Regions from separate parts of the Homo sapiens genome. Here region 2 is linked to region 1. Evidence: fine-mapped expression QTL. A gene starts in region 1. The other region holds a variant in brackets. All regions are shown on one strand. Distances are between the middles of the regions.

What was found. PIP is the estimated chance that this variant, and not a neighbour inherited with it, causes the effect.
Region 2: its variant is fine-mapped to the expression of GNAZ in whole blood (TOPMed, PIP 0.95).

What each region holds. Positions count from the first base shown.
Region 1 is chr22:23,069,026-23,071,525 of GRCh38, forward strand. GNAZ (G protein subunit alpha z) reads left to right here and starts at 1,494. Exons shown (of 3, transcript NM_002073.4): 1 at 1,494-1,545. The region is part of intron 4 of RSPH14 (radial spoke head 14 homolog); the gene reads right to left. RefSeq lists silencers at 1,169-1,308, 1,449-1,588 and an enhancer at 2,195-2,500.
Region 2 is chr22:23,103,677-23,106,176 of GRCh38, forward strand. The region is part of intron 4 of RSPH14 (radial spoke head 14 homolog); the gene reads right to left. All of the region lies in intron 2 of GNAZ (G protein subunit alpha z), which reads left to right. Among named protein-coding and RNA genes, the nearest start is that of GNAZ, 34 kb to the left of the region's middle. The variant C/G (reference allele first, on the strand shown) is at 1,484.

The sequences.
Region 1 (2,500 bases):
GGCAGCACCCTCACAGGTGGCCCATGACCCTGCAGGTACGTAACGCAATGGTCTCCATCTCACAGAAGAGGAAACATTCCTAGGGAGGTTATGGGATGATGCTGAGATGCCACAGTGTCCAGCTGGCAAAGCCAGGCACATGCCCCTGCCCCTCCACCACAGAGCTATGATGGAGAGACCGCTCCATGGACCTCTGCCATGGTCAGGTCCAGGGCTGCTGCTCAAAGAATGGCATGATCCACACCTTACAAAGGTGTGAGGTGATAAGGAACGCGTTAGCTGGGAAGGCATTTGCACTTTGTCAGGGATGCTCTAGGATACACAAAGCTTCAGATTTACAAAGATGGAGAAGAGAGACAGGAGCATTCATGTCTTGGCCCTCTGGCTTGAGAGTCTTTTAAGCATGGAACTGAGGGACTCCTGGCCCTGAGGTCCACAGATAGGCTTTGAAATTGAAAACAGAATTTTGCAGCCTGGGTTCAGCTGCGTTTTGCTGAGGGTCTGATGCTTTCCACCAGCTTCCCAAAAGCGCCAATCAGTGGCCTTAACTGAACTGGCTCTCTCACGCTTGTCTGGGCTGGGGGCCAGCTCCTCGGTCCTTCTCCCTTCCTTCCCTCCCAAGGCCACCCTTCCGTGTGCCAGGATTGCCAGGGACGCCAAAGAGCCCCTAGACACTGGGCGGTGGCGGCGGGGGGCGGCGGCAGAGATGACTAATGCTCCCTCCCATCGCTGCACAAACCTCACCGGTGTAAATCGTTAGGGTTTGCATAGGCCTTTCACACGTTCTGAAGGATTGGTGAGACAATCCAGGAAAGCAGGTGCCACTAGCCCCACTTTGCAAACAGAAAGGCTGAGAGAGGTCAGTCGGTTGCCCAAGGACGTAGAGCTCACAAGAGGCCGAACTGGGTTTGAACCCGAGTGGAGAGAAGGCGAGCCGGGACTGGCTGCAGTAAAGAGGGCCAGGACCATGGCTGGGCTCAGGCTTGGTTTCCCGGGCTGCCAGAGGTGGCCCCTGGGGCTCGGCTACCAGGCCTCAGCGCAGCGGAGTCGGTGGAACGCCGGCGCGGGGAGCTCTTGCGGGACTGCGGCGCGCGCGGAGCTGCGACCCCGCCCCTGTCCGTCCCCATTGGGCTACTGGCCCGTCCGTCAGCTGCCTGTGCCCAATGGACAGAGGGCCGGCGCTCGTGGCGGGGCGGAGGTGCCCGGCGCGTGGTGCCCGGCGGGCGCGCGGCACCCCCCCGCCCGCGGTTGGCCTGGCAACGGGCTGCGCTCGCGGCTCCGCCCCCTGCCGGCGGCGGCGCGGCGCGGGGCGGGCGGACCCGCGGACTGGCGGCGGGCGGCGGGCGGCGGGCGGCGCGGGAGGGCGGGCGGAGGGAACCAGGCCGGCCGGAGCGTGTGCGCCGCCCGCGGTCCGGTCACGTCCCCGCGTGGGCGCCGCTGCCCGCGTCGTACGGAACGAGGGCGCCGCGGCCCCGTGCTCGCCGCCCCGCCCCGCCCCGCCCTGCCCGGAGCAGCTCGGCAGATGCTCTGTGCTGCGGCCCGGAGGTGAGTGAGCCGACCCGCGGCCGGCCGCGCGCCGCTGAGCCTCAGGGGTCGGGGGCACGGCCGGGGCATCCACCTTGCCCCCACTTGGGACTCTTCCCAGGCCTTTGTGCCCCGGATCCGCCAGGACGCAGCGTCAGGGATGCCCCTCAGGGGTGGGGGACACCAAGGGCGGGGACGCCTGCGAGGTGGGCAGGGGGCGGCCTCTGGTCGGGCAGGTGCTGGGGGAGGGATGCGCCGCCAAGCCGATGACCCCGCGGGAGGGGGCGGTTGAGGACCCGGGAGGGTGGACAGAGGGCGCCGGGGATGCCGCGCGGGGCCGCCGGGCGCCCCCAAGCAGCGGCTGATGCGGAGCCCGGGCGGGCCAGGCGAGCTGCGGGAGCGGCGCTGAGGCGGGTCTCCCTAGGGGGAGGATCAGGGAGGGGCGGCCGGAGCCGATGCAGGGCCTTGCCTGAAACCGAGGAGAGGGCCCCAGAGGCCTGGGCCCGAGGACCTGGGCCCGCAGACGGACAGCTAGCAGTTCTCGGTCACTGCTCTTGCAGCGAGCAGGTTCCTCACAGGCATTTAGAGGAAGAGATGAGTATCGACCTGCTGCGATTGTAATACGTTCCCGGCTCAATATTTTTTCCCTTAAAAGGCGGTGGGGGTGTTTGGGGGAGGGGAGTGAGGGCCTCAGGGCTGGCGCTCCGTATCCTGCGGGCGATCCGAGGGGGCTCTGCCTTTAGGGCGGTGCTGAGCCTTCCTGGGTGATGATGGCAGGATTCGGCCTAGGCCGAGAATGGGGGCTCCTGTTAACTGAGACAAGAGGATGATGCCAAGCGAGACCAGCGTTCCGCGTAGTCCGTGTTGGGGTGGAGGGACCCGCCTGGTAGAGAGGTCTGTCTTGCTTGGGGAGACAGCTGAGCCCCTGACCGGCTCCTTTCTGCCCAAGTGATTTCCCTGCCCTGGGGATTGAGCT
Region 2 (2,500 bases), 35 kb after region 1:
TGTTCTCCATCTGAGAACAAGCCCTGTGGCATCCTTGCAGGAAGCAGTCCTTGTTCACCCAGTATGTGTGGGCCCTGGGCCTGACAAACTCAGTCTAGGGACAGAGGCAGTCCTATCCCTTCCTCCCTCAGGTCAGCTGGGGATGGCATCAAGCAGGCCCTGGAGGACCTGTGTAGCCAGGGCTGGCCTCAGGCTGGCTTCCCCAGTGCCTACAAATGCTGGCCGCATGCTCTCTGTGACTGGCCCTGAGCCTGCCCTAGGAAACAGTTTTCTAGGTGCAGAGAAGCCAGGAACAGGTGCCTCCTCTGTCCCAAAGACCAACATTTGCAGGAGAGACGGGGGCCTAGACGTTGGGAGCAGGCCTGCACAGATTGGGATGAACGTGGGGGTGGTGATCTGATCTGGACCTTGCAGAATCCAGTCAAGGCTGTGGGGGAGCAGTGGGGACAGTCAACAAAGGCAGGACTGAGGGGGCTGTCGGGGGCCATGGAGAGCACAGAGCTATGCACAGTGCCCTGCAGCGGGATGACGGAGGACCAGGCGGTGTAAGGTCTAAGCAGGCAGGGCAAGGTCGCAGGCACAGTGTCCAGTCCCCAGTGTGGCCCAGGGTGGGTGTCGCTGCCTGAGCGCCCTGTGATGACGGAGCCAGGGTTCAGCCCCAGGACTGTGTCCCTCCCAGTTTATACACCTCCTGCTCTGCCTCGTGATCAGGCTGGATGCTCACAATGATACCCTGTCTGAACTGTTCCAAGAGCTTCAGGGCAGAGCTGCTTCCCACCCCACATCCCCTCAACCTGCATCGGCTAGGCTTGCCCAGGCCAGTGGGTAATTAATTTCCTGAGCGCATTAGCTCTGCTCAGTACACACACATGAGAACAGCTCTGGGTTTTAAGACACAGATTACTATTGTTTTAAGGGATTTGTATAATCCAGTAACTGAAAAACAATTTTCCACTATCTAGAACAGACTCCAAGGTGGAGGCTAAGAGTGCTGGGGGCCTTGCTGACTTGGGGATCCCTAGTAACCAGTGTAGATGGGGGGATCTGCCACTCAGGGGAGTCCTGTGACTGGCCATGAACAAGACAAGCAGTGAGGACAGGATGCAGCAGCAAGGCTCTGTGCTGACCGGATGCATAGCCCTCTTCACCTGAGGCCCCACTGGCTCAGTCTAGTTTCTGGAGGGATTGGAATGACAGTCAGCTAGGGTGCATGGCCCTGGGCATCTCAGGGGGGACACCCAGTGTTGGCCAGGGCAGAGTGAAAGGTGTTTCTTCTCTCTGCATGTGGCTCCCGTCTGGATAGTGGACAAGCTTAGGCCAGCCCAGGAGCCTGGCTGCAGCTCACCCTAATCCCTGCTTCATCACACCTCGTGGTGGACATGTCCTCAGCTCAGGTACTTTCTCTAATTTCATTAATAATGAAACCAGAGTCGACTGGGGGCCCTGGGCCTTGTATCCTAAGGTTCCCAGCCCAGGCCGGCCA[C/G]GGCCACAGCCCCACACACCTTTTCCTGGCCTGTGGTGACCAGGGGAGAAGCACAGCAGCATCCTGACCAAGGGGGCCCAGAGCCTCGAAGGCAACTTGGCTCAGCTGGAGGAGTGACTATGGGCAAGGTCCTGCCCCACAGGGCCACCCAGCTCAAGCAGTAACAACCCAAATATGTTTTTTTAAAGGATGAATATTTTTGAAAACCATCTTTTTGGCCATAGGCAGAGGTTCCCCACTGGGATCTCTCCCCACTACCCCCAGTTTCTCATGTCCCTCCCAGGAAAGAGCCTGAGCCTGCTGCAGAGGGGTTCACAAGCCCTTGAGCCTACAGGTGTGGGTCCGAGGCTGCAGTGCCAGCGGCTAGGAGTGCAGAGTGCACCCACCTTGCTGAACAAAGCAAAGGCAAACCAGGCAAGGGTGTCGGCCTTGGGTTCCTGGGGATCCTCTGGAGCTGAAACTAGGAGGGGTTTCTCACACTGTGCTTTCTTCGCATGGTGATGGCGTGCAAGCTCCTGGCCAGGCCTGTGTCTGTGTTGACAGCTTCCAATCTACAACACACCTGTATCATGCTGTTTGTTAATTTCCCTTCAGCGACTGACACTGGCTGGTGGGGAGCAGGGGTGCAGGTTACTTAAAAGCAGCAAGATTTAACACAAAAACAAATAGGAGACAGTTCTCAGCTGAAACAGAAGTGGACTGGGGCTTTGGAAGAGGCCAGTCCTCCCAGTTGGGCAGGAGAGCTTATGGGGTCAAGGTGAGAGCAGGTGGGACCCAGGTGCTGAGGGTGCCCACGGCCTCCCTTTCTGGGTCTGGGTGTGAAGCCAGGGAGCAGGACACAGGAGCTCCAGGCCCTTTCGGAGCAAATGCTCCCACCATCTTGGAATTTTCTGTCCCAGGACTGGGAGTCTTTGAGCATTGTTAAGGCACCACCTCCAGTCACGTGACTCCCGCCACATATCACACTTACCCTGGGGCTCTGCCTCCTCAGCAACTTTGACCAACACCCTTGGGAAT